Homo sapiens: one gene and its partners. The protein of the gene in region 1 interacts with the protein of each later gene in a biochemical or structural test. Each region holds a gene or a part of one and is shown in the gene's direction. Other genes may lie near its edges.

Region 1 (3,255 bases):
GGTACGTGGTACACCAGTAAGGGGAGCCATCACCAGAGGTGCCACTGTGACTCGAGGCGTGCCACCCCCACCTACTGTGAGGGGTGCTCCAGCACCAAGAGCACGGACAGCGGGCATCCAGAGGATACCTTTGCCTCCACCTCCTGCACCAGAAACATATGAAGAATATGTAAGAAATTTGAACAATGTGCCATTTCCCAGTACCTAGAAGGCTGCTAAAGGAAGTTGAATGACAGGGCCTCGGTCCTTTATGTAGGTGTCATGGACTGCCTGTAAGATTTGCAATCTGCCCTCTTCTCTTGCAGTGAATGTTGAACTATTAGAAGATTTTTCCATTTTAGGCAGGGTTTTACTATACGCCTGTAGATTAAACAAGAAATAAAATGTACTTTAATGTAGTATTTTATAATGAATTTCTTACTACTAGTACTGATAATACTAAAGCTCGATTTTGTACTTTACTTCCTGCCCACACTTCTTCTGTGGCATATCATATTTGTTTGGGTTTTCTTTGTTTAGTAACCCTTTCTCTTTTGACTATTCTACAGTAGGCATTAACATTTTGGAGGGAAATGTCATGTCCTTTTAATTCAGAAGCCTACTTACTCCCATGGGATGTAATTACCTTTCCTACTCTCTATGATTTTGATCTTTTATTTCATTTTTTTGTTGTTGTTGTTCTAGGGATATGATGATACATACGCAGAACAAAGTTACGAAGGCTACGAAGGCTATTACAGCCAGAGTCAAGGGTGAGTCAGGCAGTATAAGCACTGTTTTTTGTCCTGAGGATGGATGGAGGGAGTTGGAGGAACAGAGAGATTTAGACAGTACAACCCTAAGGAGCAGAATGGTTCGCCTTTTGAGGGTATCTCCTCTGCAACCCCCACAGTCCTGACTGGTCTTGAACTCTTGAGCTCAAGCAGTCCTCCCACTTTAGCTCTCTCTAGTAGCTGGGGTTACAGGTGCGTGCCACCATGCAATGCTTTCCTCTGCGTTTGACATCTGTGAAGCACACACTTGGATTTGTAAATCTGGATAACTGTGAACCTTAAATTATAATTTAGAACCTGAGAGTAACAAATGAAAAATTTCCAAGCTGTGACTACATGGAAACAAGGAGAAATGCCTTTATGTTATTTTGATTTATTATTTTAAAATATCAAAACCACATTAAAGCTCCATAAAATTTTACAAGAAACTTGAATTCCATTACCATAACTTAGGTTCTTTTCTGCATTTCTCTTTAAGACCATTTCCTTGTGTGTCCATATATATAGCTTACCTGTGAATTGATTGAAAAAGAGTTCCAGAATTCTACAGCAGTGATAAAACAGTTCTTTTTTCCTTCTGGTGAGCCCTATGAATACATGTATATATATGCTATATTAAAAGGGTCAATTTAGGATTGTGCTTTTTCACTTTATATTCTGTGGTATCCATTTTTCTTTGCAATAGTTGTCAATTATTTTATAAGTACATAGTCTATACATATTTTGGAAATACTTTACGGTTTAGGGATGGGGCAGAATGAGTATTTTCCTGTATTAATACACTTAGTAAAATGACTGACTTATGGAAGTATTTGAGAGAAAGTTGAAACATAGTTACTCTGTAGCTTCCTAACACTCTGCCTTTGGCTTTCAGGGACTCAGAATATTATGACTATGGACATGGGGAGGTTCAAGATTCTTATGAAGCTTATGGTATGTCTTTATCTCTGTGGTGGGGCAGAATGTACAAGTAAGTGCCTGGGAGAATGCTGGTGACTAAAGTATTGAGAGTCAGACAAACACACCTACGGATAAACCTTTAGAAGGCCAAGATTTTGCTAGATGTGACAGTAAGAGTTCTGCTCTTGCTTAAATTTTGCGGTACATGGTAGAAAGAGGGACTGCTAAAGTGAGGTGGGGTATCGTTACTCTTGGAAGGGTAGTGTTTGTCTTAAACAAGGGCTCAAGACCAGCTTGGCCCTGGTTGGAGCAGCAGACTTATAAGCTAATGTTATTTTTTTTCTACTTTAGGCAGGGAAATAGCTAGACCTGGGTTGTATTTCTGGGCCTTTGCTGCCGATATCTAGGCCACTTTGGTAGATAACAAGAACTTAATCGTACACAACTGTACTCATCTACCCCATTTCATTAAAAAAAAAATTTAGATCTCATTGAAAAGAATGTCATTGTAAAGGAAATGTCAGCTGAAAGGGACCTAGATGGCAAGCAGCTAGCCAGACCAGGTTGCGGGGCAAGAATAGTGCCTATTAGGGCCGGGCGTGGTGGCTCATGCCTGTAATCCCAACACTTTGCGAGGCCGAGGCAGGCGGATCACCTGTGGTCAGGAGTTCGAGACCAGCCTGGCCAAGATGGTGAAACCCTGTCTCTACTAAAAATACAAAAAAATTAGCCAGGTGTGGTGGTGGGCGCCTTTAATCTCAGCTACTTGGGAGGCTGAGGCATGAGAATCACTTGAACCTGGGAGGCGGAGGTTGCAACGAGCTGAGACCGTGCCATTGCACTCCAGCCTGGGCAACAAAAGTCCGTCTCAAAAAAAAAAAATAGTGCCTATTAGAATCAGATTAGAGGCTGTAGGGGCTAGAGCCAATAATTCAGGACAGTACTGGCACCAAGCTCCTTGTTGGCTTGAAGACATCAACACAGTCCTTGATCCCAAGAGAGCTATGGAGGCTGCAACAGCAGCAGGACAAGGCTGCCTTCCCTGAGGTTTGGTTAAAAACACATCGCTCAAGTGTGTCCTCAAGAGCCAGTTATGGCCCTGTGTTAATAGGCCTCACTGGGAATACTATGTGGCAGTGGATGCAGCGAGAGCTACCTTTTCAGTATAAGGTATTTTCAGCATACCTGAGGGACTTCCAGAGAGTCCTTGGCAGGGGCTCAGCGATTGACAGTTCACGCTAAGATACTGGTTGACAGTCTCCCCTTATCCCTAGCTGAAAAAGAGGAGCCCCTTAGGGCCTCCCAGAGACAGACAAGCTGAGCCCAACTCAGCACAGTATGAAGTAGCCAATCAGCTGCTTGCCCAAGGAAACTGTTTTTACCAGTTTTAGCGAAATAGCACTGGACAGTTGCCAATCACTAACACTGTGTGTGATTGCACCCAAGTATTTCCCTCCATCAGTGAGGCAGTACAGTGGGGCCTCTGTATGTGTTTGACTAAATTGCATTTCTGTTTTGCTGGAGAAAAGACCAAACTGAAAGAGGCAGGCTTCTCTTTGTGCTCCTGATACGACGTTGCCAC
Region 2 (3,500 bases), on another chromosome or scaffold:
TTATTTCATCACCCTAGATAGGCTGTCTTGAGCCTCTGACTCTGTTTTGAGCCTATGACTGCTGTAGCCTCCTGACTTCATTTGCTGCTCAGATAAAGAATCTCAAACCTTGCCGGGTGCGGTGGCTCACACCTGTGATCCCAGCACTTCGGAAGGCTGCGGTGGGTGGATTGCTTGAGCCCAGGAGTTTGAGACCAGCCTGGGCAACAGGGCCAAACCCTGCTTCTACAAAAAAATACAAAAAATAATTAGCCAGGAGTGGTGGTATATCCCAGTAGTCCCAGCTACTCGGGAGGCTGAGGTGGGAGGATTGCTTGAACCTGGGAGGCAGAGGTTGCTGTGAGCAATGATCATGCCACTGCTCTCCAGCTTGGGCAACAGAGTGAGACCCTGTCTCCAAAAAAAAAAAGAATCTCATACCTCGGAGACACATATACCTCTGGGACATTTATGTCTCTTATTCTGCTATGGCATCCATAGCAGTGGTGCAGATGGGAAGTCCCTAAGTAGAACTTTCTTTAATCAGGCTCCATTAAGCACTAAAGACTTCCAGGTTAAGAAAGACTCATGAGAAAACTCCATCTTGTATCTTTGCTGTCCAGAGAGTAGATTTCTTTTTTTTCTTTTTTTTTTTGAGACAGAGTCTTACTCTGTCACCCAGGCTGTAGTGGTGAGATCTTGGCTCACTGCAACCTGTGCCTCCCGGGTTCAAGTGATCTCATGCCTCAGCCTCCTGAATAGCTGAGATTACAGGTGCATGCCACCACGCCTGGCTAATTTTTCTATTTTTAGCAGAGATGGGGTTTTGTCACATTGCCCAGGCTGGTCTCAAACTCCTGACCTCGAGTGATCCACCCACCTTGGCCTCCCAAAGTGCTGGGATACCATGCCTGGCCAAGGGAGTAGATTTTAATAATAGTAATAGCTAACATTTATTACCATATTAGTAAGCATGTGTTAGAATTTGCCTACAGGAAGAATGTTCACAGCTACCCTAAAGGTACAATGATAATTCATATGGCTACTCTATAGATGAGGAAACTAAGACATAGATATTGAGTAGGCTCAAGCCTGTAATACCAGCACTTTGGGAGGCCGACGTAGGAGGATCACTAGAGCCCAGGAGTTCAAGAGCAGCCTGGGCAACATAGAGAGACCTGTCTCTTAAAAAAAAAAAAAGTTTTAAATTAAATTTGAAAAGAGATTAAGTGACTTGCCAAGGGAGTTGGGATTTAAGCTTATGTTTCTAACAACTATAGTTCACCGCTTCCTATACTGGCACACTGAAAATTCAAATTATTTCCCTTAATTTGGGAATGATAAGCCTCTGGAGACTTCATTCATATTCACCAGACTCACAGGAGAAAAAATTTATAAATAGGAAGAGTACAAGAGGTAGGCAACCAACAGCAATTGGTCTAGGGCCCAAGAACGTGAATACATGTCACTTTTGGCTTGTGTACCAGAGATTTGAACTTATGTGTCATCAGGAAAGTCAATAATAGAAAGCAACCCAGGGGGTCTAGGAATAGCAGGATACTAATAAGAGATAAAAGCAGAATGGTGATCCAGAGATCCTGGATCAAGATGGCAGACTGAGCACATATAGCTACCTCCCTCCCTTTCTACTTTAGGTCTATAAAAGTGAATGGAAATAATAGAATAAAAAAATTCCAATAAAAAAGAGTATTATTGGAAATCAAGTAATCTTCTGAAAGATGATATAGCAGAAAGAGAGGGAAACCTCTATTCAAAATATTCTTAGGAAAGGACTATTATGCATGTGGGCAGAGTTCTAAGGGAACTGCAGACTAAGAGATGGTGCGGTAGGAGGGGTCCTAGAGCACATTCAGTGTAATTGATTAGGGGATAGCTAGGGAGCCAGGCCGCTGGGTTGCTTGTACTGAACAGCAGGAGCATTTACCCTCAAGCTACAGCATGAAGTAGATGCTTAGACAAGTCCTCAAAAAGGTGTTCATTTAATATGAGTACTTGAGCTCTCAGGGGAATGCCAGATACCTTGATTTCAGAGTCCCTGAAAAAGAATTCTGAGGGAACCTTGGCTGAGTGTTACATTCCCAAAGCCCTAGCAAACTCCAGATTCTCCATCACTTTCTATACCTACAAGTTTCAAGATAAACCTGTAAACAATTCTTGCATTAGATATTGTATTAGTCCATTTTCACACTGCTGATGAAGATACCAGATACTGGGCAATTTACAAAATGAAGAGGTTTAATGGACTTACAATTCCACATGGTTGGGGAGGCCTCACAATCATGGTGGAAGGCAAGGAGGAGCAAGTCACGTCTTACATGGATGATAGCAGGCAAAGAGAGAGTTTGTGTAGGGAGACTCCCATTTTTCAAAACCATCAGATCTCATGAGACTTACTCACTCTCACGAGAGCAGCACAGGAAAGACCTGCCCCCATGATTCAATTATCTCCCACCGGCTCCCTCCCACAACACATAGGAATTCAAGATGAGTTTGGAGTGGGGACACAGCCAAACCATATCATTCTGCCTGGATCCTCCCAAATCTCATGTCGTCACATTTCAAAACTAATCATGCCTTCCCAACAGTCCCCCAAAGTCTTAACTCATTTCAGCATTAACTCAAAAGTCCACAGTTCGACGTCTCATCTGAGACAAGGCAAGTCCCTTCTGCCTATGAGCCTGTAAAATCAAAAGCAAGTTAGTTACTTCCTAGAAACAATGGGGATACAGGCATTGGGTAAATACAGCCATTCCAAATGGGAGAAATTGGCCAAAACAAAGGGGCTACAGGCCCCACGCAAGTCTGAAATCCAGTGGGGCAGTCAAATCTTAAAGCTCCAAAATGATCTCCTTTGACTCCATGTCTCACAACGAGGTCACACCGATGCAAGAGGTGGGTTCCCATGGTGTTGGGCGGCTCTGCCCCTGTGGCTCTCCAGGGTACAGCCTCCCTCCTGGCTGCTTTCACGGGCTGATGTTGAGTGTCTACAGCTTTTCCAGGCACACGGTGCAAGCTGTTGGTGGATCTACCATTCTGGGGTCTGGAAGATTTTGGCCCTCTTCTCACAGCTCCACTAGGTGGTGCCCCAGTAGGGACTCTGTGTAGAGGCTCTGACCCCACATTTTCCTTCTGCACTGCCCCAGCAGAGGTTCTCCATGAGAGCCCTGCACCTGCAGCAAACTTCTGCCTGGACATCCAGGCATTTCCATACATCCTCTGAAATCGAGGCAGAGGTTCCCAAACCTCAGTTCTTCTGTGCACCCGCAGGCTCAACACCACATGGAAGCTGCCAAGGCTTGGGGCTTGCACCCTCTGAAGCCATGGCCTGAGTTCTACATTGGCCCCTTTCAGCCATGGCTGGAGCAGCTGGGACACAGGGCACCAAGTCCCTAGGCTGCACACAGCATAGTGATCCTGGGCACAGCCCAGGAAATCACTCTTTCCTCCTAGGCCTTTGGGCCTGTGATGGGTGCAGTTGCCGTGAAGACCTCTGACATGCC
Region 3 (3,500 bases), on another chromosome or scaffold:
CATCATCTCTCTGGCTTCCATGAATTCTGACTGCAGCACCCCCAGCAAGCCTACCTCAGAGAGGTCAGTCCCTGCACCCCAAGGAGCCCCCCACACCCCTGCCTCCCTGGCTCTATCCCCCCTCCTTCTCTCTCTTCTCCGGCAACATCCCTTCTACCTTTCCCTTCCTCCTTTCAGTTTAAAAGCCTTTTCCCATCTGCAGTCTCACAACTACCCCAGGAGGCTCATGGTTAGTACCATTTTTAGGGGATTATCAGAGGCTCAGAGAGGCAAGGCAGCTTTCCTGAGGACCCAGCAGGAGTCACCTGCAGCCCCCAGACTTCTAGTCCAGTGATCTCTGTCAGCCAGGCAGAGCTCCTCACCAAGCCTGCATCCTTCTGGAATATTGTCACCTCTCATAGGGATCTGTTCCCTTTCAAGGAAGCTCCTCCCAACCACGATGGGATGTCTCCATTGCAGAGCTCTTCCTCCTGCACCACCTACCCACCCCTCTGTCGGGGGTCTTCCCTCCCTTGCCCCTTCCACCTTCCTGGAGCCCTCTGGCCATCATTGTTGGACCCTCCAGAAACTTCCCTGCGGGCCTCAGAGGTTACTCTTGCCCAGAGGGAAAAGGATGGAAACGTCTTCTGTTTCACAGTTCTAGGGGGCATCATTCACAATTCTAGGGGGCACCATTCACCCTGCCCAACTCATCTGTTCTAATCATAGATACATGAGCAACCCAGCACTTACCATATGCCAAGAATATGCCAAGGGTTCCTCAGACATCATCTCATGGCCACTCTGCAAGGTCTCTGCGAAGACCTCCATTTACTGAAAAGGAAATGATGGCTTGAAGAGGTTGAGTGATTTACCCAAAGTTATTCATTCAGCTAAGAACTGGCCGTGCCTGGATTTGAATCCACATTCATGCTTTCAACCAGTCTTCTCTCCTCACCACCAGTTTCTTTTCTATGGCTCACTTCTTTCAATTTCATTTTACCACGAATAAAATAAAGTGAACTTTACTCATCACATTTAACTGTTTGTGCATTGAGCAAGTTGCTCCCCAAATCCTCTGCCAGATTTGCTGATCTACTCCAGACCCTGTAGTGACAGCTCAGGCAGCCCAAAGGTCCCCTTCAGCTTCCTGGGTCCTTGCAAGGCAGTTCTACTGAAGCTCTAACTGCAGTTTCTATTGCTGCCCCTCTGGCCTTTCAGCTTTGACCTGGAATTAGCATCACCCAAGACGCCGAGAGTGGAGCAGGAGGAACCGATCTCCCCGGGGAGCACCCTGCCTGAGGTCAAGCTGCGGAGGTCCAAGAAGAGGACAAAGAGAAGCAGCGTAGTTTTTGCGGATGAGAAAGCAGCTGCAGAGTCGGACCTGAAGCGGGTGAGTGGCTGAGGCAGATTGCCTCTCCAGCGCTGTTAGCACATTTCCACTACATGCTGGGCACAAAACCCAGGGCTTCCAGATATGGGCTTCCTGAAGCCTGCCACTGCGGTGCTATGGGTATTGCAGAGGCGGCACCTGAGGAGCTGAGAGGTGAAGTGCTTACTCGTGCCCAGGCAGCTGGGGTGGCTGGGACATGACAGAGCTGGGAGTTGAGCCCTGACCTTTGCACTTCAGAGCCTGTGTGTATCCTTTCCACCATCACACAGGGCTTTTCCAGGCTGGGGAGAATCCACCTGTTCTCCCACCAAAAGGGAGAGCAGCCCACTTGGTACTGAGCTAGGTGTTTCTATAGCCCCCAGCCCCAGGCCTATTCTAACCACTGATGTCTCAGACCCCTGCAAGCCCCTCCTGTGTGCCAGGAGTCCAGGTGGGGATACAGGGATGAAATCTCACTGTCCTGGCTTTGAGAGTGTTGGTCTTGTAAACTAACGATTATTTAAAAATGAGACTTGGTTTCAGACAGCCCTGGATTCAATCTTAGTTTCCCCCTGGAAAAGAGGTTTGTTGGAAGTGTTCTGGGAACCTGGGAGTGGGAGATGGATTAACTGCCCTGGCAAGGGAGGGGTGCCAAATGAAAGAGCAAGGGGCCAACCAAGATGCCTTAGTGAAGAAAGGGCCCTCCAGAAACTTCCCAGTGGGCCTCGCAGGCTACTCTTGCGTGGATGGATAAGAATGGAAATGTCTTCTGTGTTTGTCGATTCTAGGGGACACCATTTACATGATAGTCTAAATGAATGTCCGCCACCCCCGCCTGTAGTTGTGTAGTGTGCAACCTGTGCAACCATATGTGGCAGGCTGGCATGGAATGGTATAATACAGAATAAATGAACTTGGAGCCAGCTTCATAGAAACCATGCCACGCCCTCCTCACTGATCTTTCAGAGACCCAGATCTGCCTCATGCTAAGCCTCTGTCTTTGTGTGTGTGTGTGTGTGTCTGGTGTATTCCTCCAGCTTTCCAGGAAGCATGAGTTCATGAGTGACACCAACCTCTCGGAGCATGCGGCCATCCCCCTCAAGGCGTCTGTCCTCTCTCAAATGAGCTTTGCCAGCCAGTCCATGCCTACCATCCCAGGTATGCCCCCTGCTGCCACCAGCATGAGGGAGTAGAGATAGTGCAGGCCACCAGCCTTGTGGGTGGAGGATGGATGGGAACTGTGTCTACACAACAAAGTGGGCCAGGCATCCTGGAGTGAGAGGCTCTGCTCATAGCCACCCACCCTCTAATCTCTCCCCACACCCACCACTTCCTGGGGGTGACACCATCCCAGCAAGCTCCAGCAGGGACAGGGGAGAGGCCTGCTGTCCCTTGGGCCCTCAGGATTCACTGAGCATCCATTTGTCACACTAGGTGGCCCCTTGTTCTCAGTTAGCCAGGCCTCCCCAGGGGCCAGAAGTTTGCCCTTGGTATGTCCCTAAGACCTGTGGCTTCTTTGTGGACCTGGAAGACTCTTTCTGGCTTTACAGAAATGGCCACCACATCTTATAGCTGCAAAGTGTTTGGTGCATAGATGCTACCTATCTGCCACCGTCGTCACTCACTCACTGTCCAGTGAGGAGGTTAGAGCACAGCCGATGGTCCTAACTCACAGAAGGGAATCTGAGGCCCTAACAGGGGACATGGCATGCCTGAGAGCACTCCATCTGGTAGGCAGAAGTCCTTGACGTCTGCTGCTATGTGCCTGGCTCTGTGTGCTAAGGGCCAGGTCAGAAGGGAACAAGACAGGACCAGTGCTGCCCTGTGGAACTCAGCAGGCCGATCATGGTGAAGACGCTTGCTGTTTCCTGAACATTGAGGGTGCCAGGCCCTGCGCCAACTGCTACTCCTTCTTTATTTCATTTACTCCACTGCGCATACCCAGGAAGTAGTTCATGTTATCCACCCCATTGTATGGATGAGGAAACTGGGGCACTGAGAACATCACTCTCTTGCCTATCACCAGCCAGCAAATGGCAGAGACTGAGTTCAGACCCAGGCCCTCTTCCCTGGAACAGGCACCTACCCACTGCCCCGCCACCACCCCCAGGATAGCCTGAACACAGCTGCAACATTTGGCCCAAGCCAT
Region 4 (3,500 bases), on another chromosome or scaffold:
AGCAAAAGAGGAAGCAAAGGGCTCATTGAAGTCAAGCCCCACAGGGACCATAAACTCCTCACTGAAAAGTTCACATGCAATTCTATAGGGACTCAAAAGGTTCGGAATTAATTGTTATCACAGGTGCAGCAACAAGCTTCCCGATTAAAGATGCCAAATTATACTGCATGAGAAAGTTTATTGTTTTGAGAACGTTTACTTCTGAGCCAGAGTTGTTCACTAGTTTATTTTGCCAAAAGTTGTTAGCTGTGGGGAGAGAGGATTGGCTACTACTATATAGTCTTCAAAGACACCTAATTGACTTTTCTTGTGTTGGGAAGGTGCTAGAACAGACTTAAGAAACATTGAGAAGAAGCTGGCCTTCGACATGGCTACCAATGCTGCCTGTGCATCTCTCCTGAAAAAGAAACAGGGAACAGGTATTTGTTTTAAATTCTTCTTTCTCCTCTGGTGCCCCATAACTAAGATTTATTAACTTAGAATGGCGCAAAAGAGATAAACTCAGCTGAGTGCAGTGGCTTATACCTGTAATCCCAGCACTTTGGGAGGCCAAGGCAGGAGGTTCACTTGAGCCCAGGAGTTGGAGACCAGCCTGAGCAATAAAGTGAGACCTCTGTCTCTACAAAAAGTACCAAAAATTAGTCAGACATTGTGGTGTGGGCCTGTAGTCCCAGCTACTCAGGAGGCTGAGCTGGGGGATCACTTGAGCCCTGGGAGGTTGAGGCTGCAGTGAGCTGTGATCGCACCACTGCATTCCAGCCTGGGTGAGAGCAAGACCATATCTCAAAAAAAGAAAACCAAAAAAAAAAAAAAAAAAAAAAAAAAAGATAAACTCTTCAGATGATTCTGAAGTTTGTTTCAATATCCTTGATCTTAATGAGAACCCCCAAAATAGGACACCCTCAATTAAACAGAAATTAGACAAGAAACATAATCTTTTACCTTTATTGTGTGTTTCTTTTATTCCTTGCAATTAAGTTCTAATCACCCTGCTTTCCATTACAGTCCTTTTCAGAGAACGATCATCTTCATTCCCTCATTTAAATATGTATTTATGAGTGATTACCACTAAATATTTTTAAAAATAACATTTAATAGCTCCATGATTATATTTTATTTCTGTTTTAAATGAGGATATCAGTAAACTGTAATCAAATTTATTCTAGACTTTGCTAAATCTTCTGGACTTTATTCATAGTATTATGGGTGGTTTTTTAAAATAGAGTTTAAATGTACATTATTATTATTTTTTTAGATGGAGTCTTACTCTGTTGCTCAGCCTGGAGTGCAGGTGTGCAATCATAGCTCACTGCAGCCTCAAACTCCTAGGCTCACGTGATCCTCCCATCTCAGCTTCCTGAGAAAATGGGACTACAGGCATGTGTCATCATGCCCAGCTAATTTTTTTTTTAATGTAGAGATAGGGGTCTTGCCATGTTGTCCAGGTTGGTCTCGAACTCATGGACTCAAGCCATCCTCCTGCCTCAGCCTCCCAAAGCACTGGGATTACAGGCGAGAGCCGCTGTGCCCAGCCTCCTTTTGTTCTTTATTCTAGATATGTCTTTGTTCCAGATTTCTTTTCTTTTTTTAACTTCAGTTTGAATATAGTGTAACTGCTAATCAGTTGGTATTCCTTAATTAATCCATGAGAGCTCACTGGGAGTGCAAGCCTTTCTTTAAAGTAATTCCTCATGGATAGATGGAGATGGGTTCTACTAAGGGAATGGGAAAGTATCAGCTGAGCTGGTGCTCCCCAGCTACATTATGATTGAGAAGCCATATTTGCAATAGTGTGAGAGACATACTTCTGCTTGAGTTCGACCTCCTACTCCTTGCTGCCTTGATTGGGTCAGGAAGTAGGAGTCTGGCCTAACTTCCTTTCTCTGCCACTGACTTCCTGTTGTGTGGCTACCCTTAGCCTGTCCTGACCGAAGAGTAAGGCTTCTTATGACCTGAAGGTATCAGAGTCTAATGCATGCTATGAGCTCCATTTTGATAGACAAGGCATATACCAAACTTTCTTAGACCTCAGAGAGCTTACCCAGAAGCCTTACTCAGGAGTGGTTTGAGTTGAGGGAGGCAGGTAATGAGCCTTTCTGCAGCCTTCGTAGAACAGGGCTGGGAGGCAGGTACTCTTTTCTCTGTGCACCCCAAGTGTGTTTAGTCTACCTTCCTGAATTTGAACTGATTAGGTAATAGATTCATTAATGAGGTAATCTTAGGGCCTGGCAGACAGAGCCAAGAAATGAGTTTTTATATTTCAATTTTCATGTTACTTTTAAAATGTTTTTTCTTGCTTCATTTCCCCAATTATACAGTTAATTTGTATTGTGATCCTCATTGGAATAGGTTTGGACTATTTGGCCATAGAGTTAATTGTCAGCATGAACTCTAAGTTGGAAAAGGTATATTCTGATATTGTTGTCCACTTTTTTTTTTTTTTTGAGACAGAGTCTCACTCTGTTGCCCAGGCTGGAGTGAAGTGACACAATCTCAGTTCACTGCAACCTCCGCCTCCCGGGCTCAAGTGATTCTCCTGCCTCAGCCTCCTGAGTAGCTGGGATTACAGGCATGAGCCACGATGCCCGGCTAATTTTTGTATTTTTATCAGAGATGGGGTTTCACCTTTTTTGTCCAGGCTGGTCTCGAACTCCTGACCTCAAGCGATCTGCCTGCCTTGGCCTCCCAAGGTAGTTGTTGTCTACTTTTAGAAGCACAATGTGGATTTTTTAATAAGTACAAAAATTCACATTTTGCAGTTACTATGGAAGATAACTAGGATATAGGGCTGGGGGTTATACTCGAGTTGAGCCCTTTAACATTTTTTTCCAACTTTTAAAAATTTGTGTATAATTTACATTAAGTAAGTACATAAATCTTAAGCATACAGCTTGATTAATTTTTTTTACACCTGTTCACCACAACCCAGATGAAGCTAGAGAACAGTTCCCACACGCCACATGCCTCCCTCAGTGTCTTCTGCTTCTCTCACCATAGATTAGTTCTGCCCGTTCGTGAACTTTATGTAAATGGAATCAAACAGTATGTACTTTTTGTGACTGACCTCTTTCATTTACATTATGTCTGTGAGAGTCATCCATATGCCTGTGTTTATTTCTCCATCATTTATTTATTGTTTGTATGTTTGTTGGTTGGTTTTAAGTGCTGGTTCTTGATTTGAGATATGTAAAGCCAGGGTGATGGGACTGAGGTAAAATGAACGTGAGCTAGGGAAGGATGGCAGTGCTGCAGGAAGATACATTCCTATGCGTGCTATGCCCAGAGGTGGGCTGTGAAGAGATACAGGCTCATCACACAACACCTGACCATGTGGGAAAACTGCCTCAGAACAGTTCATGAAAGGAAAGAAGGAGAAGGAATTTATTTGCTGACTTGTGCCTGTCTTTTGATGACCACTCAGTCAGAGTCTGCACTGTGGCAAATCATCCTCTCTTTTTAATAGAAGTAAGAATAAAATAAAGAGCAGAAGTAACCATCCA
Region 5 (3,500 bases), on another chromosome or scaffold:
TAATCCTTTGCCAGCAGTCTGTGGCCTCCTAGCTACTCTTACTACTCAGTCCCCCTCTGATGTTCAGGTCTCACTGGCCTGCACAGATATTTGAACACACTCCAGGCAACCAGCCAGCTCATTTCATACCTCTAGTGGGCTTGCTGATGTTTTCGAAAAGGAGAAGCCCTTGCTAGCCGTGTTTATGTGGCTTACTGTTTCCTACCTCCCATCAGCAGACTTGCACACACGTCCAAGGATTGATTCTGGTGTCTGAAATGATCTTTCGAGGTGAGACAGAGGCTTTTTCTTTGGGCATCTAGTTAACCAACCTGTCAGTGTCAGACTACTAGTATAACCTGGCCAAATTTAGAACAAACCAACCCCCATTGGTACTTCAAAACGGTGACAGTGTTAGCATTCTGCTGTGCCCCTGTGCCAACTCTTCTAGTACTCGCCGTGCACATACCTTCAAGAAACCTCTTCCTTCCCATCTAGGACCTAATCCGGAGAGACATCCTGTACTACAAAGGCCGCATTGACATGGATAAATATGAGGTAGTTGACATTGAGGATGGCAGAGATGATGACTTCAATGTCAGCATGAAGAATGCCTTTAAGCTTCACAACAAGGAGACTGAGGAGATACATCTGTTCTTTGCCAAGAAGCTGGAGGAAAAAATACGCTGGCTCAGGGCTTTCAGAGAAGAGAGGAAAATGGTACAGGAAGATGAAAAAATTGGTAAGTGACCTGAGAGTAGAAAGAAGAACATGGCTATGAAGAACATAGGAGGTTTGAATTGGTTTCCATTTTCTTGGAGTCAGAGGGAAGATTTCTGTTGCAAACTGACTTAAGCTACTTTGGTGGTTCCTTATTATTAGGTTCTTTTTGGTAAGTACCAATAGCTTCCATTAGTCAGTGGTAGGTTTGAACTATAGGTTGTCCTCCCCTACTAGCTAAGAATATCACACTGAAAGCCAGCCTCAGGCTTGATTCTCCCAAACATACATTTATTAGCAAATAAACAAAAATCAGTTATACAACCTGTTCTGTAATCTTCATAAAGCCTGAGCTCTCTGTCATTAGGTATATAGTTTGTACTCCTGATTAGGATACTTCAGATGTTAACTAAATCCCCCTAGACTGTAGATTCAAATAATATGCACATACACTTCACACTTTCTGTGTGGAAGTATTTAAAGTAAATTATAGAAAATATAACAGGACTTAAAACCATGACCATTTTCATGATTTCAAATCACACTGAAACATACTTTTTTGCCTTACAATAAGTTGTTTCTCTTTTCCAGTGGGGATATAGATAGTAGAGATATTTTTCATGTTGCTTCCCAACTGTGGGATTTAGACGCCATTGGCTATAGCTTTGTGACTTATAAAGTACTGTCTGGTCTCTTGCTCATGGTCCTGCCTTTCTGTCATAAAAAATACCAAGCAACCAGACTTGTTAATTCCCTGAGAAGACATACAGTTTCTGTCTTTGCCCTATTGCTTATGGGAGTGAAATTGTACTTTAGAAGGCCTGAAAGCTCAAGTTTATGGAAATTGTCTCTAGAAAAATGGGCCTACTCATTGAATCCTGGTGCAAAAGGGTTCTCTTATCCTTCCATGTGGGCGATTGAAATTATCCAGAGGTAAGAAAGGATGGTCAGAAAGACAAATCTAACTCCAGTCTTCTCCTCAGAACTTGGGTAGAGTGCAAATTAATAACTCACTTTGAGTCTCATTGGAATCAGACTGCTTTCAGTATGTGGACACTCCATTGGGACATGATGTGGAGTGGCATATAAATGTTGCTGGCTACTTCTCTCAATAGCAAGCAGCAGCAGCCACTGACCTTGCCTAGGCTGTTAGAGTTATTAAAGGAATGGTCTTAGTGTTCAGACCCTGAATCAATTAGAAGGCCCCTGCCATTCCCATTGGCTCTAACACAATGTCTCCCACACAATGCCCTAATAAACCTGTGACTTTATCTGCTTCTAATAGAAAAGCTTCTAGAAATTACTTTCTGAACAGGCATATGTTCATCTTTAAAAATGTTGAGGTTTTTTTTTTTTGGTTTGATAATAACAGTAAATCACTTCCATTGTAGGAAATTTAGGGAAAAAGCAACAGAAAAGTACAAGAAAAAAAAAAAACACATGAACATACTCAGTAATAACTTTCATAAACATTTTGATATATATTTCCAGCCTTTTTTATGTGTCTAATTAGAAAAATCAAGGTGACTGAATCTTTTTTCTTTCTCTCCCCATACCTGCCTCTCTATAGTGGATAGATATAATTTTGTATCCTCATTTTCACTCATCATTATATCATTAGCATTTCTATCAGATCACTTCATATTTTTAATCATTATTTTATGAGGGTCATATAGTTTTATCATAGCTTTTTTAAACTTTTACTTTTTAATTATAAAATTAATGCATGACCATTATAACCATTTAAACAAATATGGAAATATATAAAGAAAACTTAGCATTCCTTCCCCTTCTCTGTCACTTCCATACTGAATGAAATAACCAGTGTTAACAGTGCAGTATGCATCTTTCCATACTTATCTCATGTCCATATAAACATATACAAACATAATACTTTTATATTTACAAAAATTATATTATATATATTACCTTGTAGGTTGCTTTTTTAAACTTAATTTATCATAAGTAACTCCCCAGATAAATAATATAGAATCTAACTATAACCCCTTGTATCAGTTAGGGTTCAACCAAAGAGGCATAACCTGTAGGAGATATATCATACCACTGCTGAAAATTGCATTACAAGGAATTGGCTTATGTGATTGTGAATGTTGACTAAGTGGCTCAGAATTCCATAGAGCAGGCAGTCAGAAATGGAGGATCACAGGCAGGCTCAAACCCATGGACATAGGCCAAAGCTGTCATCTACAGGCAGTCAGGAAGAGAAGCTCATGAGAAGGATGAAGTGGCACAGACATGGGCTAAAGCTGTGGTGCACAGGTAGAATTTCTGCCCTTTCTGTGTGAGACCTAGGCTCTACTTTTAAGGTCTTGCAACAGATTCAGTCAGGTCCATCCAGATTATCTAGGATATTGTCCCTTATATAAAGTCAACTGATTAGGGCCTGTATTAGCCCATGTTCACAGTGCTATAAATACCTGAGACTGGGTAATTTATGAAGAAAAGAGGTTTAATTGACTCACAGTTCTGCAGGCTTAACAGGAAGCATCACTGGGAGGCCTCAGGAAATTTAGAATCATAGTAGAAGGCAAAGGGGAAGCAAGCATCTTCTTCACATAGTGGCAGGAGAGAGAGAGAGCAAGAGGGAAGTGCCACATACTTTTAAACCATCAGATCTCGTGAGAACTCACCCACTATCATGAGAACAGCATGGGAGAAATTCCCCCCATGATCCAATCACCTCCCACTAGGCCCCTCCCCCAACACATGGGGATTACCATTCCACATGAGATTTGGGTGGGGACACAGAGCCAAACCGTATCAGGGGCTTTGATTATATC
Region 6 (3,500 bases), on another chromosome or scaffold:
CCAATTTTTGTTGTTGTTGTTGTTTTGAGACAGAGTCTCACTCTGTCACACAGGCTGGAGTGCAGCAGCATGATCTCGGCTCACTGCAACCTCCACCTCTCGAATTCAAGCGATTCTCCTGCCTCAGCCTCCCAAGTGGCTGTGATTACAGGCATATGCCACCATGCCCGGCTAATTTTTGTATTTTTAGTAGAGACGGGGTTTCACCATGTTGGCCAGGCTGGTCTTGAACTCTTCACCTCAAGTGATCCGCCCACCTCAGCCTCCCAAAGTGCTGGGATTATAGGCATGAGCCACCATGCCTGGCCTCTACTGACCAAATATAATCCCCCTCACTATCACACATGTAAATACATTTTGTCTACTTTAGCTCTCTGTGGTAATAGAGAAGAGTTGATTTATCTCCATATATTCAAGACCAAACAAAGTGGTAGCATTTTAAACCATTTTTATAAAAAATATTTTGCTTTCTTCCCCAGATATATTCTCTCTCTTTTTCTCTCTCTCAGGTAATAATAATGTTCCTAACACCTTCTCTTTTACCATTCACTCTGAAAATTAAAGTGACTGTCATTTCCTCTTAGTCATCCCAGGATCTTTCTCAAAACCCTTCAGAGTTTGAGAGACGTTCATTCTTTTTTCCAATGCTCTCAGGAAGGTAGGAGGATGATGTCACAGCTCTCTGGGACTCATTCTTCCCAACTATCATGAGGGTGGATGTAGAGTCAACTTCTGATCATCTAAGAGGAAAAGAAAAGTACAGATGATACAAAATAGTAGAAAACACGCAGCTTCTCCTGGGATGCTGCACTCTCTCCTGTCACATTCCTTCATTTTTTTTTTTTTTTCACAAGCAAGGAGAACTTTGATTTTTTTTTTCTTTTTCTTTTTTTTTTTTATGGATATATAGTCTCTCTCTGTCACTCAGGCTGGAGTGCAGTGGCGTGATCTTGGCTCACTGCAACCTCTGCTTCCCGGGTTCAAGTGATTCTCCTGCCTCAGCCTCCCAAGTAGCTGGGATTATAGGCGTCCGCCACCATGTCTGGCTAATTTTTGTATTTTTAGTAGAGATGGGGTTTCACTATGTTGGTCAGGCTGGTCTCAAACTCCAGTCCTCAAGTGATCTGCCCGCCTCAGCCTCCCAAAGTGCTGGGATTACAGGCATGAGCCACTGCGCCCAGCCTGATTTTTTTCTAATTGATAAAAATTATATACATTTATGGCGTATAACATGATGGTTGAATATATGTATGCATTGTGGAGTGCCTAAATCAAGCTAATTGTACATGCATTACCTCGCATGCTTATCAGGCATTTGTGGTGAGAACACTTAAACTCTACTCTCTTAGTAATTTTCAAGCATATAATATGTTATGATGAACTATAGTCACTGTGCTGTACAATAGGTCTCTTGAACTTATTTCTCCTAAGTGAAGTTTTACGTCCTTTGACCAATATCTCCCCAATCTCGCTCCCCTTTCTTGCTTTCGGCTCAACCAGTCCTGCAGCATTTTGGCTGGGTTCACGGGGGCCACTTCACAGCAAGGAAAGGAGGGAAGAGGTCATGTGTTCCCCACATTAATCCACCAGTTGGGTAATCTGTGTCTGAATAATTGGAAGTCTGCAGTTCCTCTCTCCCCACAGACAGGGGTAGTGGTTAAGTAATTGCATTATCAGCCTCCTCCAGTCTCTGGGGAGAGGATGCCAATGTTAAGTAGCAGCAGACTTCCATCTCCCCTTGTCTCTGAGTGAAGACTGCCTGTTTTCCCTGCCAGTGCGAGGACAGCAAGGTGGATGCCCTGGGGGAAGCCCTGCAGACCACGGTCAGTCGCTGGAAATGTAAGTTCTCGGCCCCGCTGCCCCTGGAGCTCTATACGTCGTCCAACTTCATCGGCCTCTTTGTAAAGGAAGACAGTGCGGAGGTCCTCAAGAAGTTTGCTGCTGACTTTGCTGCAGAGGCTGCATCCAAAACCGGTGAGCAAACAGCTGCCAGGCCAGCCCTGGGCCCTGTCAATCAAAGAGTTGGAAAGGAAAAAGGATAGGAAATAGTGGTAGAGGAGCAGGATGGGGTCAGGAGGTGGAGGACCCTGCAGGAATGGACGTGTGACAAAAAAACAGCCTTTTCCTGCAGCACCCCACGTCTTGCTCCCTTGTAAAAACGTTCAACCCCTCTTCTGCTGACCTGGAGAGACCGTCTAAGGCTTATTCCCTAACACCCAAGTTGAAGTTTCACAAATGACTTCCATACTGAACTAGAAATGTATTTCTTTGTAGCACCACCATCTCCTCCTAATTCAGAATTAAAGAAACATCCTTTCTCCCTCCCAAGCTCCCGCCCATGTAGGTGTTTATCTGGGTCTCATTGTTCACTCCATGACAATCCAGATCTTTTCTCAGTGGGTAGCAGAGGATAGAGAGAAGAGTGGAAGCACTTCGTATTATATCACAATAAAATCCACTGAACCAATACCCTTCAACTTGCTGAAAACCATTAGACAGGACCCCAAGCCCCAAGAGTCTGTCTAAAAATGTAACCCCTTCCAAATGTCTCCTGCTCTTCTCATGGGAGCTCTTAGTTCAGGACACCTGAGATTTCCTGTCAAAGGAATTAGCTTAAGGGGGTGCTCAAGGCAGGAGACACGATGGAGGTGAAAAGAGGGAGAAGTTTGCAAAGCTCTCCTGTCTGACTACAGGTGTGGACAAGCTCACTTAGCTCAATGACAGCAGGGAAACAGACAGACAATCTGGTGGGGGGAGAGCCTCTTGGCTCGCTCCAGCATGAAATCACAATTGGCAGGTACTTACTGGTCACCTACTATGAGGATTTCTCCTACATGAGGAGTGCTACAGGGAAGAGAACAAGAAGTGGTTTCTCCCGGCCAGGCCCTGTGTAACATCAGCTCTGAAAAGAGAAAGGGGTGGTTCTACCTTCACGGAAGGAAGGAAACTTGCCCTGGGACGATGTTGATCAGGACAATGGAGGAAAGGCCTGCAGGCGGGCGGGTGGCAGGAGCACAGGCAGGCAGGCATGAGATGGTGTGAGCAGAGGACAGTGGGGAGGCTGCCCTGACCAGAGTGGATGGTGCAGGATGCACAGTGGAAGCCGAGTGCTGAGTGCAAAGCTGGAGGAGACGTACAATTCCCCTACCCCTAATTTTAGGGAGTGCCAGAGAGGGGGAAGACCTGAGCAAGGCCGCAGTTTGCTCCTTAGCCTTTTGGCCTTTGGCCTATCCCTCACCTGCCATTGTTCCCTGCTGCTATTTTCATCACCATCTCAGGCCCTTTGTTCCATATTCCTCTTTACCAGAAAAGCACCACACAGGACTTGGGACCTATGAGTGGGATCGGGGCTCAGTATCACTGCAGGATCACAGTGCTCTCGGAAGGAACACAAGGACCTTAAGACCCCTCTGTACCTGGGGAGGGGTCCTCTTTAGACTTTGCAACCCCCACCCCCACCTCTTCCTCTCCCTCAGCGACGGGACTAGTCTCCGGGTCCT
Region 7 (3,500 bases), on another chromosome or scaffold:
TCCTCCTTTCTCTGCCTGGGGTCACCTCCTCCAGGAAGCCTCCCCAGCTCCTCCACTGCAGAGTCAGGGGCTCCCACTTCACCTCTGCCCTTGTCCTGTCCCCACCTGAGGCACAAATCCAGCCTTGCAGGTGTGTGGCCTCAGATTTGAATCCCACCTCTGCCGCTTAGTATTCAAGGGACCCAGGGAAGAAAATGCCCACTCCGTGGGGTCCTGGGAAGAAGGCAGAAATGGCAGCCGAGGGTGTTCAGTGGTGCTCCCTGTCTGCACCACCCACTCCTGCCGCTCGCCTCTCACTCACCCTACATCCTCTGGGCAGAGCTCGGGGCTTGTGCTGTGGGCTGTGTGGGATGAGAGAGGAGAAACATCTCATAAGAACTGGTGTGAGGCTGGTCACATCGGGGCTAAGGGTGTTGGTGACAGAGTGGTGGTGACTGGTGGTTGGAACCTGGAGTATACTCCAGGTGCCACAGTTATGTTGGCGGGGGCACCCCAGAGAGATAGGGGTCCCGCTTGGAGTCAGAGGATCATGTCCCTGTCCTGGCTGAGAGGACCTCCCTGGGGTGGGGTGTGGGGTGCAGGGTATCGAGGAGGTGGCCAGAGGAGCTCTGTCCCCAGAAGTGGGTGGCACCGGGCCAGTGTGCCCCTGCTGTGTGGGCCAGTTATTGGCCCAGCATCTGCTGTGCACGTGGCAGGGGTAATGACAGTGATGGGGAGCCCAGTTCTTCTGCTCACTCCTTAGATTCTGTTTTCTGGGGAGCAGGCAGCCTCGGGTGCTGGTGCCCTGGCTGGCAGGGGAACACCCCTAACTTTACCTGCCCTGTCCTCTCCCTCTGGCCCAGGTGACCAAGAGGCTGCATGACGGGGAGTCCACAGTGCAGGGCAACAGCATGCTGGAGGACCGGCCCACCTCCAACCTGGAGAAGCTGCACTTCATCATCGGCAATGGCATCCTGCGGCCAGCACTCCGGTCAGTGCCGGGAGGCGGGGACACCAGGGCCTGAAAGTCTTTTGGTGGCTGAGTGGTGCCTCTGTCAACCTAGCAAGAGATTAAGCCAAGCAGGCCTGGGTTTGGCTTCGCTGCTAGCTAGTTGGTGGAGTTAGGACCTTGGTGGAGTTATTTCATCTTTCTAAGCCTCTGATTCCTTGTCTGTAAAGGGGGAATCCTAAAACAGGCATCCCTTGGAGATATTGCAGGTTCAGTTGAAGGCCACAGAAATAAATATCACAATAAAGAGAGCTGCAGAAATATTTTGGTTTCCCAGTGCATATAAAAGTCATATTTATACTATACTATAGTCTATGAAGTATGAAATAGCATTATGTCTAAAAAATGTAGACATCTTGATTAGAAATTAATGCCAAAAATGCTAATGGTCATCTGAAAGTTGTATCTATTTGCTGGAGGGTCTTGCCTTGATGTTGATGGCTGCTGACTGATCAGAGTGGTGGTTGCTGAAGGTCGAGGTGGCTGCGACAATTTATTAAGATAAGACAACAGTGAGATTTGCTTTCACACAAAATTTCTCTGTAGCATGCAATGCTGTTTGACAGCATTTTACCCACAGTAGAACTTCTTTCAAAATTGGAGTCGATCCTCTCAAACCCTGCTGCTGCTTTATCAATTAAGTTGATGCAATATTCTAAATCCTTTGTTGTCATTTCAACAATGTTCACAGCATCTTCACCAATAGATTCCATCTCAAGAAACCACTTTCTTTGCTCCTCCATAAGAGGCAACTCCTCATCCACTGAAATTTGATCATGACATTGCAGCAACTCAGTTCCATCCTCAGGCCCCACTTCTCATTCTAGTTCTCTTGCTATTTATTTCCACCACATCTGCAGTTACTTCCTCTTGAAGTCTTGAGCCCCTCAGTCATTCATGAAGTTTGGAATCCACTTCTTCTAAACTCCTATTGATGTTAATAATTTGACCTCCTTCTACGAATCATGAATGTTCTGAATGGCACTGAGAATAGTGAATACTTTCCAGAAGCTTTTCCATTGATTTTGCCCAGATCCACCAGAGGAATCACTATCTATGGCAGCAATAGTCTTATAAAATGTATTTCTTAAATAAGACTTGAAAGCCAAAATTACTCCTTGATCCATAGGTTGCAGAATGGATGTTGCATTAGCAGGCATGAAAATAACATTCGTCTCCTTGTACATCATTTTTTTTTTTTTTTTTGGAGACAGAGTCTCACTCTGTTGCCCAGGCTGGAGTGCAGTGGCGCCATCTCAGCTCACTGCAACCTCTGCCTCCCGGGTTCAAGCAATTCTCCTGCCTCAGCCTCCCGAGTGGCTGGGACTACAGGTGCCCACCACCACATCCAGCTAATTTTTGTATTTTTAGTAGAGACGGGGTTTCACCATGTTGCCAGGCTGGTCTTGAACTCCTGACCCTGTGATCCACCCACCTCAGCCTCCCAAAATGCTGGGATTCCAGGTGTAAGCCCCTGCAGCCAGCCTCTTGTACATAATTTTTAAGAGCCCCAGAATTTTTGGAATGGTCACTGAGCATTGGCTTCAATTGAAAGTCAGCAGTGCATTAGCTCCTGACAGGAGAGTCAGCCTGTCTTTTGAAGCCTTGAAGCCAGCCATTGACTTCTCTCTAGCTATGAAAGTCCTAGATGACATCTTCTTCCAATAGAAGGCTGGTTCATCTACATGGAAAATCTGCTGTTGAGTGTAATCACCTTCATCAATGATTCTAGCTAGACCTTCTGGAAAACTTGTTGCAGCTTCTCCACCAGCACTTGTTGCTTCACCTTGCACTTTTATATTTTGGAGACAGCTTCTTGCTTTGAACCTCATGAGGCGATCTCTGTGAGCCTCCAACTTACCTTCTGCAACTTCCTTACCTCTCTCAGCCTTCATAGAATTGAAGAGACAGTCTTCCTCTAGATTAGGCTTTGGCTTAAGGGAATGTTGTGGCTGGTTTGATCTATTCAGACCCCTAAAATTTTCTCCATATCAGCAAATAAGGCTGTTTCACTTTCCTATCATTTGCATGTTCACTGGAGTAGCATTTTTGATGTCCTTCAGGAACTATTCCTTTGCATTCACAAGTTGGTTAACTGCTTTGCACAAGAGGCCCAGCTTTTGGTCTATCTCGGCTTTCAACATGCTTTCCTCTCTAATCATTTCTAGCTTTTGATTAAAAGTGAAAAATGTGCGACGCTTCCTTTCACTTGAACACTTAGAGGCCATTTTAGGGTTATTAATTGGCCTAATTTCAATATGAATGTGTCTCAGGGAATCAGGAGGCGTGAGGAGAGGGAGTGAGATGGGGGAATGGCTGGTTGGTAGAGCAGTCAGAACACATCTAACATTTATCAGTTAGGTTTGCCATATTCTATGGGCACGATTCATGGTGCACAAAACAATTACAATAGTAACGTTAAAGATTAGTGATCACAGATCACAGCAAATATAATAATAAAGTTTGAGATATTTCTAGTATTGCCAAAATGTGACAGAAACGGGAAGTGAGC

What was found.
Region 2: the proteins of KHDRBS1 (region 1) and DNMBP interact in a test that uses a peptide from one of them, tested with the Homo sapiens proteins (one study listed by BioGRID).
Region 3: the proteins of KHDRBS1 (region 1) and DOCK2 interact in a test that uses a peptide from one of them, tested with the Homo sapiens proteins (one study listed by BioGRID).
Region 4: the proteins of KHDRBS1 (region 1) and OSTF1 interact in a test that uses a peptide from one of them, tested with the Homo sapiens proteins (one study listed by BioGRID).
Region 5: the proteins of KHDRBS1 (region 1) and ARHGEF9 interact in a test that uses a peptide from one of them, tested with the Homo sapiens proteins (one study listed by BioGRID).
Region 6: the proteins of KHDRBS1 (region 1) and UBASH3B interact in a test that uses a peptide from one of them, tested with the Homo sapiens proteins (one study listed by BioGRID).
Region 7: the proteins of KHDRBS1 (region 1) and MYO7A interact in a test that uses a peptide from one of them, tested with the Homo sapiens proteins (one study listed by BioGRID).

The regions. Positions count from the first base shown.
Region 1 is NC_000001.11:32,037,868-32,041,122, forward strand, and holds part of KHDRBS1 (KH domain-containing, RNA-binding, signal transduction-associated protein 1), read left to right. Parts: coding exon 1-169; exon of another isoform or gene 170-252; intron 253-684; coding exon 685-752; intron 753-1,647; coding exon 1,648-1,706; intron 1,707-3,255. UniProt on the Homo sapiens protein: Recruited and tyrosine phosphorylated by several receptor systems, for example the T-cell, leptin and insulin receptors. Once phosphorylated, functions as an adapter protein in signal transduction cascades by binding to SH2 and SH3 domain-containing proteins.
Region 2 is NC_000010.11:99,950,948-99,954,447, reverse strand, and holds part of DNMBP (dynamin-binding protein), read left to right. Parts: intron 1-3,500. UniProt on the Homo sapiens protein: Plays a critical role as a guanine nucleotide exchange factor (GEF) for CDC42 in several intracellular processes associated with the actin and microtubule cytoskeleton.
Region 3 is NC_000005.10:170,077,775-170,081,274, forward strand, and holds part of DOCK2 (dedicator of cytokinesis protein 2), read left to right. Parts: coding exon 1-63; intron 64-1,200; coding exon 1,201-1,372; intron 1,373-2,388; coding exon 2,389-2,509; intron 2,510-3,500. UniProt on the Homo sapiens protein: Involved in cytoskeletal rearrangements required for lymphocyte migration in response of chemokines. Activates RAC1 and RAC2, but not CDC42, by functioning as a guanine nucleotide exchange factor (GEF), which exchanges bound GDP for free GTP.
Region 4 is NC_000009.12:75,140,514-75,144,013, forward strand, and holds part of OSTF1 (osteoclast-stimulating factor 1), read left to right. Parts: intron 1-320; coding exon 321-419; intron 420-3,500.
Region 5 is NC_000023.11:63,652,715-63,656,214, reverse strand, and holds part of ARHGEF9 (rho guanine nucleotide exchange factor 9), read left to right. Parts: intron 1-477; coding exon 478-721; intron 722-3,500. UniProt on the Homo sapiens protein: Acts as a guanine nucleotide exchange factor (GEF) for CDC42. Promotes formation of GPHN clusters.
Region 6 is NC_000011.10:122,777,722-122,781,221, forward strand, and holds part of UBASH3B (ubiquitin-associated and SH3 domain-containing protein B), read left to right. Parts: intron 1-1,775; coding exon 1,776-1,974; intron 1,975-3,500. UniProt on the Homo sapiens protein: Interferes with CBL-mediated down-regulation and degradation of receptor-type tyrosine kinases. Promotes accumulation of activated target receptors, such as T-cell receptors and EGFR, on the cell surface.
Region 7 is NC_000011.10:77,183,746-77,187,245, forward strand, and holds part of MYO7A (unconventional myosin-VIIa), read left to right. Parts: intron 1-842; coding exon 843-970; intron 971-3,500. UniProt on the Homo sapiens protein: Myosins are actin-based motor molecules with ATPase activity. Unconventional myosins serve in intracellular movements. Their highly divergent tails bind to membranous compartments, which are then moved relative to actin filaments.